Linked DNA regions of Homo sapiens: region 1 is linked to region 2. The links come from fine-mapping of genetic effects on gene expression. A gene starts in region 2. The other region holds a variant in brackets. All regions are shown on one strand. Distances are from middle to middle.

What was found. PIP is the estimated chance that this variant, and not a neighbour inherited with it, causes the effect.
Region 1: its variant is fine-mapped to the expression of NFKBIE in whole blood (INTERVAL, PIP above 0.99).

The regions. Positions count from the first base shown.
Region 1 is chr6:44,367,055-44,372,426 of GRCh38, forward strand. SPATS1 (spermatogenesis associated serine rich 1) reads left to right here. Exons shown (of 9, transcript NM_001372081.1): 6 at 1,325-1,445; 7 at 2,997-3,059. Among named protein-coding and RNA genes, the nearest start is that of CDC5L, 18 kb to the right of the region's middle. The variant G/A (reference allele first, on the strand shown) is at 2,215.
Region 2 is chr6:44,263,008-44,268,379 of GRCh38, forward strand. It overlaps NFKBIE (NFKB inhibitor epsilon), which reads right to left and starts at 2,544. Exons shown (of 6, transcript NM_004556.3): 1 at 1,975-2,544. The coding sequence starts at 2,339. RefSeq lists enhancers at 239-488, 499-618, 699-748, 1,049-1,278, 1,671-2,170 and 1 more and a silencer at 2,089-2,758.

The sequences.
Region 1 (5,372 bases), 100 kb after region 2:
ATGCAAAAGGTTTCAGATGCACTGTATATTTAATTAATTGATTAAATTGTTGAGACAGAGTCTCATTCTATTTCCCAGGCTGGAGTGCAGTGGCATGATCTCGGCTTACTGCAACCTCCGTCTCCCGGGTTTAAGCGATTCTCCTGTCTCAGCCTCCCGAGTAACTGGGATTACTGGCGTGTGCCACCACACCCAGCTAATTTTTGTATTTTTAGTAGAGACAGGGTTTCACTGTGTTGGCCAGGCTGGTCTAGAACTCCTGGCCTCAAGGGGATTCAGTATATATTTTAAACCTCCACTCTCTCTGCTTTGAATCCTCAGCATCTCATACCCAGCAGGCACTCAATGCATGGGTGCAGTTGATGTTATTTCACCACACAGAAGAGCTAATCAAAAGTGTAATACAGTCAGTTATTGAAAAGGTTTTTGAAAGAGAAAGACAAAAAAGTAAATACTCTGGTAACCCAAGAACTTCCACCTGTCACGCTGATGGCTTTTCCGAGTTAGCTAGAAGAATCTGGGTGTGTGGCAAAGATGGAGGTCATGCTTCCAGCCACGTGTCCCTGCTTCTGAGCCCAAGGGTGATGAGTCTCGTAGTCCAGGCTTATTCTCTTAGGAGATGCATCTGGTGTAAGTGTGTGGGTTGATTTATTTATTTTAAATTTTAATTTTTTAAATAGGCAATTTTAAGGACTTTAGGTGTGTGGGTTTAAATGATCACCCTACACTAGGCTGATGCCTTCCACTCCCGTGATTAGTTTCTTGTTCCCAGGGCTTTAGCAGGGGCTGAGCTGGGTGTAAGAACCTCTGCTGAGTAATCTTGCTCTTCTCCAGGAAGCCACCTCCCACTGCTGCATGGCCCCAGTCCTTGAGGCAGAAGGAGCAAGACATCCTTAGTTGGTTTCCTTCCTGGACCCAGTCAGAGAGGCAGAGCCCCAGGGACACTTGTTTCTTCGGCTTCCTAAGACTCAGGGATTCAAAGTGCACTAATGCTCAGGAATGAAGAGATTTTTAGGTCAGAGATTTTTGGATCATTGCAAAGAAACCTCTGATTCACCTTATATTTTAAACCAAAACACTCCATCTGAATCTAACAATTCTTTTCCAGGGTGAGGTAGTTACAACAACACTTTTTGGAAAATGTCCCAAATATAGGCTCATCTCCTTAAGGCAAGATAATCACAAACAGAACTTTGAGAAACTTCTATGTAATTTATAATAAAATACTAAAATATCCTCTTTCCATTGTCATGCCAATACTTACAGCAAATCTGTGGATCATCTTCAGCCCTTGTATGATTTTGTTTTCAAACCTTCTCCACAGATATTGATCCCAGGAATGGAATCCCAAAGTTAACTCCAGGCGACAATCCATATATGTACCCAGAACAGAGTAAAGGCTTCCACAAAGCAGGATCAATGCTCCCACCAGTGAATTTTTCAATGTAAGTGTATGTTAATACTAGCATTATATAGTTAACTTTAAAGGAATTGTGTCTCTCTACTACACAGAAATTATATTTTAAAAGGGATAGATGTCAACAAGATGTGATTGGATGAAAATTCCTTGAAAAGCTCATCTTTAGTTAATTAATGTCTGCACACATGCATGTGTATAATTAAAATTACACACAGGACTTGGACTACAAAAAAGTGGTTGTTAATTTTGTTCCTATCTCTATTATCACAGATTTGAAAACTTTTAAATTTTCATACTGAATCAGATTGTTGGCCATAGTGACTACTATGTGGGTGGACTTAAACTTGGAAATAAACTTAGACCAAAGTGATGGAGAAAAGTGGGAGGATCATTACATTAAAAGAAAAATAGTTGGTGTATTACATTTTTTTTTTTTTTTTGAGACGGAGTCTCGCTCCGTCGCCCTGGCTGGAGTGCAGTGGTGCCATCTCAGCTCACTGCAAGCTCTGCCTCCTGGGTTCATGCCATTCTCCTGCCTCAGCCTCCCGAGTAGCTGGGACTACAGGTGCCCGCCACCACACCTGGGTAATTTTTTGTATTTTCAGTAGAGACGGGGTTTCACCATGTTAGCCAGGATGGTCTTGATCTCCTGACCTCGTGATCCGCCCGCCTTGGCCTCCCAAAGTGCTGGGTAGTTGGTGTACTACATTTAAAATATTATTTTAAAAAATTAACCATGTGGGATATAATGATGTTGACTAAAAATGATCAAAACTAAAATCTGTGGGCCGGGC[G/A]CGGTGGCTCACGCCTGTAACCCCAGCCCTTTGAGAGGCCAAGGGTGGGGTGGGGTGGATCGCCTGAGGTCAGGAGTTCAAGACCAGCCTGGCCAACATGGTAAAATCCCGTGTCTACTAAAAATACAAAAATTAGCTGGGCACGGTGGCAGATGCTTGTAATCTCAGCTACTCAGGAGGCTGAGGAAGGAGAATTATTTGAACCTGGGTGATGGAGGTTGCAGTGAGCCGAGATTGCAGCGCCACACTCTAGCCTGGGCGACAGAGTTAAGACTCCATCTCAAAATAAATAAAATAAAATAAAATAATATAAAATCTGTGGGCCAGGCACAGTGGCTCATGCCTGTAATCCTAGCACTTTGGGAGGCTGAGGCTGGAGGATTGCTTCAGCCCAGGCGTTCCAGACCTACCTGGGCAACATGGAGAAACCCCTTCTCTACAAAAATACAAAAAATTAGCTGGGCATGGTGGTGTGTGCCTATAATCCCAGCTACTTGGGAGGCTGAGGTGGGAGGATCACCTGAGCCTGAAAGGTCGAGGCTGCAGTGAGCTGAGATTGTGCCACTGCACTCCAGCCTTGGGGACAGAGTGAGACCCTGTCTCAAAACATACATAAAATAAAATAAAATAAAATAAAATAAAATCTGCGGTTCTTACAGTTTTGAAGTCAATACTTGAAAATTAAAATCGGAAAACAGGACATTCTATTGAATACAATGATGTATTGATCTCTTTGCTGTAGATGGCATACCAGTTTTATGATTGCCTTTTCTGTTTTTCAGAGTGCCTTATGAAAAGAAATTTGATACATTTATTCCACTTGAGCCTCTTCCACAAATTCCCAAGTGAGTTCTCTTGTCATGTTTTGTGTTATCCCATCTTTATTAAATATCGATTATTTTATTGTTTCCTTATGTGGAGGAGCAGGTAGATAACCAGGACACAGGGCCCTTTTGAATCCCAGCAGGAGGGTGGGGCAGTTTGTAAGGAAGGTGTTTGGATAGACATTCTGTAGAGTCTGCAATTGGGATGGTCACATATTCAACAGATGTAATTGACAAACTACCAGATGCCATGTGTTGTGCTAGCCATGCACTATAGGAGAGTTCACATGGAACAAAAAGACAGGGTTCCTGATTCCTAGAACATGAGTATGTTGGGAAAAAAAGACACATACTTAAATGATTGCAACTGGCGAGAATGGTTAGAGTTTCAAGAGGCAGAAAGAAAGCTAACAGAGCACTTCTGTGTTTGAGGGAAATATCATTCCTTTAATTTCATACTTTTGCTTCACTCCATTCTGAACCTCACTTATTTACCTAAGCAGGTTTCTGACCTATAAAGAGATATTTTCTTTTCTTTCTTTCTTTTTTTACTTTCTAATACAAAACAGTCTCCTATGAGTGGGCATGTGTCCCAGGGTCTAACCCACTCTGGAGCTCAGTGGGAATAAAAACCTTTTATTCCAAACTTGAGATTTTAATGTCTTTATTATGTTGCATTGTTACTTATGGCACACGATTAGGGCTTCTCATGTCTGTACTTTACATTTTTAATAAACACTATTCTAGAATATTCCAAATAATAGCAATTGCCTACATTTCATCACTCTACTATTTTAGCTTTTGTACATTACCTTTCATATGCAAATATGTTTTTACATGTATAAACCCCAGAATACCAATTAGTCTGGTTTTCCTAAAAAGAAAGGTTTTTTTTTTTTTTTTCTTGAAGTACAAAGCTAGCTGGGTGCAGTGGCTCACACCTATAATCCCAGCACTTTGGGAGGCCAAGGCAGGGGGACTGCTTGAAGCCAAGAGATTGAGACCAGCATGGGCAACATAGTGAGACCCTATCTCTACAAAATATTTTTTTTAAAAATTAGCCAGGCATAGTGGTATGCAACTGTAGTCCTAGGTACTTGGGAGGCTGAGGCAGGAGGGTTTCTTGAGTCTATGAGTTCGAGGCTGCAGTGAGCTACGATTGTGCTATGCACTCCAGCCTAGGTGATAGAGCAAAACCCTGTCTCAAATTAAAAAAAAAAAAAAGAGAGAGAAGTCGATCAGCATATTCCTCTGTGCTATGGTCAATAAGACAATTGTGAGACTTGGACCCTTTCCTCAGGGACAGTCACCCTAATGAAAAAGTCTACTAACCAGTTAGTCATGGCAGAAGTGACAAAGGCTTCTGTTGCTGGATTTAGCATTTATTGTTTCCTAGATTCTCTATTTTGTTCTGTAGCGTCTAGTTTGCTGTTAGTCCTATCCAGTGATTATGTATTTCGATCTTTAGAAATTCTATTTGATTCTTTTTTATATCTGTTGTTCTTTCCTATTTTCATGTTTTCCTTAAATACTTGGACATAGTAATAGCTGTTTAAAGATTTTTGTTTGTGGGCTGGGCGCGGTGGCTCATGCCTGTAATCCCAGCACTTTGGGAGGCTGAGGCTGGCGGATCACGAGGTCAGGAGATTGAGACCATCCTGGCTAACACAGTGAAACCCTGTCTCTACTAAAAATACAAAAAATTAGCTGGGCGTGGTGGCAGGCGCCTGTGGTCCCAGCTACTCGGGAGGCTGAGGCAGGAGAATGGCGTGAACCTGGGAGGCAGAGCTTGCAGTGAGCTGAGATGGTGCCACTGCACTCCAGCCTGGGCGACACAGCGAGACTCCGTCTCAAAAAAAAAAAAAAAAAAGATTTTTGTTTGCAGCCGGGCATGATGGCTCACTCCTGTAACCACAGCACTTTGGGAGGCCGAGGCAGGCAGATTGAGGTCAAGAGATCAAGACCATCCTGGCCAACATGGTGAGACCCTGTCTCTACTAAAAGCACAAAAATTATCTGGGTGTGGTGGCGCGCACCTGTAGTCCCAGCTACTTGGGAGGCTGAGGCAGGAGAATCACTTGAACCCGGGAGGCAAAGGTTGAAGTGAGCCAAGATCACGCCACTGCACTCCAGCCTGGCGACAGAGTGAGACTCCATCTCAAAAAAAAAAAAAAAAGATTTTTGTTTGCTAATTCTATTATTTGTGTCATTTCTGGGTGTGTTTCTACTGACTGATTTTTCTCCTGATTATGGGTCACATTTTCCTGCTTCCTGGTATGTCTAGTAATTTTTATTTGGATACTGGACATTATAATTTTATATTGTTGAGTATTT
Region 2 (5,372 bases):
GCCGAAGTAGTCCAGAGGGGGTTTCCAGGGCTAAGCACCCCACCACCCCAGCACACAGGAAAGAAGGAGACAGTTGCAGGGTCACCCCGTACCCCCAAGCAACTCAGTGTTACACATTCCAAGGGAGAGACACAGAAACTCTTGGAAGAGGAGCAAGGAGACAGTGCAGCATCCTGTCCTGCTGCCCTTCCCTGGGAGTCAAGAGGCACCTCTCAGATAGCACAGACCAGGTCGGGCCTAACAGAGGCCCTCCATTCCTGTGTGCACCTCCAAGAGGAGGTCTTTGTAGTGCAGAAAATGTATTTGTTGAGGGGGCCAAGAACCTTAATCTAGGGGTAATGGGGGCAGTTGGGAGGGGAAGTTCCAGTCTTGGGGTTTCCCCACGTCAGGTGGGGAAAACGAAAGCCAGTGATGGAGGGTCTAGGCCGGGACAGCTGCCTTGGGGCATTAGTGAGGGGGGTAGATTGGCTAAAAGGCCCGTCTGGGCTGGGGAGGGGGCTGCTTGGGCAGGAGGGTGGCAGGCTTTAGCAGCAGGCAGCAGGAGAGGCCCAGGAGAGTGACGGAGGGAGGGAGGAACTGCTCTGGAAATCCCCTAGGCCAGGGCCTGCTCTCTGGGTCACATTCTTGCAGCCACCTCCCTCTCTCCCCCAGTATCCCCTCCTCCCACTTCCTCTTCCCACTTCCATACCTCCCACAGCCCAGACACCTCCAACAGAGGGAGGAAAGTGCCCCCTGCTCTCTGGGGACTCGCTGGGGAGCCCGGACATTTCTCCCCTCCACACACACACCCAATCTGGACACAACACCTGCTTCTAACTAGAGATGGAAAAGGCTGGGGCTGAGAGGCTAACAAAAGACGGCAATGTCAAAAGTCCCCTCTCCTTGGATCAAAGGTCATCAGAGGTATCTTGCGTGCAGCCCCCAAAACCTTGGGGTTCTGGGCCTGAGGGCTGGTGATCCAGGCAGAGTACAGAAAGGACTGGGTCACTCCTCTCCCACCCACTGGGTCCACCAGCTGTCTTTATCAATGGCCACCCAGGATTAGGACCCTGCATCTCCAAAAAGCAGGTTAGGACAGCCACCTCCTGCCTCCCCTACTCCTATTTATATGAGCACCCTTGACCAGGGATTCCAGCCCTCCCCAACTCTATTTCTCATCCCCAGTTCCCAACCTTTCCCTCCTCTGTCAATGTTTTCTTCTTCCTGGGGGGCTAAATCCTCAACTGGCCAACCCATCCCACACAACTGCCTTTTACTTCAACTGCCCTCTGGCCCACTCCCACCAAACTCCATCTGGGTCTGGAGGAGGAAGGGTTAAGTGAGGGAGTGAGACACGACAGTTAGTGGGACTGGGGGCTCTGGAGGTAGAGGATGTCAGGGACGCTGACTCTAGCCCTCACTTCCCCTTTCTTAGCAGAGGAGGAAGTAAGCTGGGGCAGCCAGCCGCCTGTCTGTCTGCTGGGGCAAGAGTGCCCCAGCCTGGCTCACCCCATCCTCCTGAGGACCAGTCCCAAACCTACACCCTGGTGGCACCCCCCATGCCTAGCTTCCTGGCCCCGACTGGCAACCTGTAACTGGCACCTGTTGTTCCTTGAGACAGAGCATTCTGAGGTCAGGAACTGGGAATCCCAGATATTGAGCAAATAAGGATGTCCCCTTCCCCAGCAAGAAGAAACAAAAAAACTGGACTTGGTCAGGGGAATTTTCTCTTCCTAAGGGTGGATTATTGGTAGATTTCCAAGATGCTGGCTGGGTTAAGGGTCCTGCCAGCTCTGCCCACCCCGAAATGGGAGGACAGAGATGATTCCATGGCCTAGCTGGACCTCAAAAGTGGGCTGAGAGTTAAGTCTGGAGTTTGGAAGAGCGAATGGGGACTTGAAGGATCTTCACGGGGGAGTGGGGGTGCCCGACCTGTTGCGGCTCTTGGGCAGGCCCAGAGTTAGCATCCCGATTCAGCCTAGCCCCCATACTCACGTGTCTCCGTCCTCGGAGATGTAAGTGAGTGCTTCCAGCTGCTGAGGGCTCAGCGCCCCCACGTGGGGGAGTGGCAGGCGTGGGGCCGGGTCCTCAGCCTCGGGGCCCCCCAGCAAGGACAGGGTGTAGGTGAGCGAGGAGGAGCCATAGGTGGAATCAGCCCGCTCCCCATCCGCGTCTTCCTTCTCCTGTGGTTCCTTGACGGGTCCCGGAGGATGGGTGCAGGGCTGGGGGCTGCCGTCCGAGGGCCCGGAGGCTGGAGCCGAGGTGGACTCGGGTAGGGAGCGCAGAGAGCGCAGAGACTCAATGCCAGAGTCGTACTGGCTCTCCTCCGCCTCGTCCGGCCCCTTCCGCGCCTCCGACATGCCCGCGGCTCTGGCCGGCCGGGGCCCGGTCTGAGCAGGATCCGGCTCCAGGCTCCGCCGCGCCGCCTTTCCGGGTTGCGGGTCCGCTTGGCAGAGCGGGCGCCCGGCCCGCGGCGGCCTCCTTCCCGGGCTGTGGGGCTCCGAGGGGCCGGCGCGCAGCGAGGACAAGGTTCGGAGCGCTGGCCAGGTCCACCCAGCGGTTACTGTGGGCAGCCGAACCGCCCAAGCGGGTCCTCCTCCTCGCCCCGCCCCTCCGGACCAACAGGGTCGCCTCACGCGGATGGCCCCGCCCCCTCCCCGCCCCCGGCGGGCGCTTCCGGAAAGAGGCCCCGCCCCTCCGGAATCCCCCTTCCCGGGCTCTGCGTAGGCTTGGAGTCTGTGGTTCCCGGGCCTTGACTCACTCCTTCGTTGATTCATTCACTCATTCATTCATTCATTCATTCACTCTTTCCCCCTTCCTCCTTCACTCCATTCATTAGTTCCACGCATGTACTGTTTCCTTCTTTCACTTCTATTTCTTAATTCATTTGTTTTATTTTTATTTTTTATTTTTTTGAGACGAAGTCTTGCTCTGTTGCCCAGGCTGGAGTGCAGTGGTTGATCTCTGCTCACTGCAACCTCCGCCTCCTGGGTTCAAGCGATTCTCCTGCCTCAGCCTTTCGAGTAGCTGGGACTACAAGTAGAGACGGGGGTCTCGCTACGTTGCCCAGGCTGGTCTCGAACTCCTGGGTTCAAGCGATCTGCCTGCCTCGGACTACCAAAGTGCTGGGATTACAGGCTGTGAGCCACCGGTCCCGGATCATTCATTTGTTTTAAAAGAAATATCTATTAATTGTCCGTACAAGCTGGCATCTTTGGGGGAGGGCATGTAGGCGATGGGATGGGGAAGCACTGCTTCCTATCCCCTGCCCATTTATCTCAATTTCTCTTGCTTTCTCATCTTTCCCTATCAGTGCCCAGGGGTACGGGTAGGGAAAGGGGACTCCCATTATCTTTAAAGGAGCAGTTCTCCTGGGTCCTGGAAGACAGTCTCCTGTGTCAACGTCCCACATCACATGGAATTGGGCATGAAAATGTTTTTTTGGAAAGAGCGTCTTCTCAGGGAAACTGTTGTCTAAAAAGTAAAGTGGTTGTGGAGTTTCTTCTTCCTCAAAGGGTGAAACCCTGGCCTTGGGTAGTTACAGTTTCTGGTCAACCCCAGCAGTCAAGGAAGTGGGGTCAGGTTGGGGAGGCCCCAGACATGCTGGGTTGCACTCTGCTCAGGTCCCCAACACAGCCCCAATCTTAGTCCCAAAACATCTTTCCTCTTTCACTGTCCCTGGGCCTAGGAAGGCCGTGGGAGCACCCTACTACAAGTGAGCCCTAAGCCCATGCTCCATGATTTATTCCCTCATTCCTCCCCACTATTCCAAGTGCTATCAGCCTAACGCCAGCAATGCCCTTAGAGGGTTATCCGCAAGGGAACATGTAGCTTTTCCATCTCCAGCATTGGAGAAAGGAAGGTGGATGAGTGTAGACAGCAACGTTTTGCAGGGGGGAGGCCAGCTTTCCCACAGCCCTTCCCCTGCAACCTCATTTTATTCATCCATCATTCACCTACTTGACAAACATGTATGGAAGGTCTCCTGTAATGTCTGACGTTGTTCTTTCTACTGGAAGCAAAACTGACTATCACAGTAATAACCAATAACCACCCCCCATGACCAACAAAAAAATCCCATGGTCCTAAAAAAGCTCCTTGGCAATTACAGCTCAGAGTGGTTGGGATAAGACAGAAGTGAGAACAGGGTGTTGTGGGGGCACACAGTGGGGCCAGCTACTCAGTGGGGTGAGAGGCAAGGAAGCTTCCATTTGAACTGAGAATGGGAAGGGAAGAGAGATAGGGAGAGGAGAAGGACCTAGTCTGTGGGGGGCGATTGGAGGCAGAAGAGTTGGGGGAGGGCTGAGGGGAGAAGATGGCCCACTGTTCTTCAACCCCATGTAGGACCAGAGTGGGAAAGACGTAATGAGCATGAAGCCCAGTGAGGAGCCACGAGGGGAAAGGCCTGGGAAATTGAAGCATCTCCTTCCCTTGAGTCAGCATGATTTCAGATGTTCTCAGTCTCCTCCCCTGACATGTTCCTCTCCGGTCCTCAAAGGCTGCAGCAAAAGTATAGTAATAAACTCCAGACCCAGACCAACTGGGTTCAAAATTTGGCCGAGCGCGGTGGCTCACGCCTGTAATCACGCCTATAAACTTTGAGAGGCTGAGGTGGGTGGATCATTTGAGGTCAGGAGTTCAAGACTGGCCTGGCCAACATGGCGAAACCTCATCTCTACTAAAAATACAAAAAGTAGCTGGGCCTGGTGGCACATGCCTGTAATTAATCCCAGCTACTTGGGAGGCTGAGGCAGGAGAATCACTTGAGGGTGGAGGTTGCAGTGAGCTGAGATCACACCACTGCACTCCAGCCTGGGCAACAGAGTGAGACTCAGTCTAAAAACAAAAACAAAAACAAAAAAATCCACACGAAATCTGACACTATCATCCCCATTTTAATGTTGGGAAACTGAGGCCCAGAGAGGTGAGTTGACTTGCTCAAGTTAAAATAGAAAGTGCAGAGATGGCTTCTCATCTAATCCAAAACTTTTACATATTTTTTAGTGGAACCTTCTTTTCTTTATCAAGAGGTAAACCACATAGGGTGGGAGTGTCTGAGCCCTCTGCAAGGATGTAAGAACTCAGGAGTGTGCAAGGACCTCCTTTTTATTCATACAGAGGCTGAATTTTAGGAAAAACCCACTTAACCCAGCCAGGTGTTTGGCTCTGAGCCGTAACAGGTGTGTGGCAGTCCCTTTTATGGCCACATGAGGTCAGCATTGAGTCACCCACTGGCCCCACTACCAGAGCTTGCACTCTTGACAGGAATCCTTTCCAACACTCCAGGAATGGGGAGGGGGACCATTGCAGTGTTATCTGAAAGGGTGACCTGGGGACTTTGACTTAGGCCACAGCATGGCTAGGGACCTGACCTCGCCTCCTCAGCTCCAGTC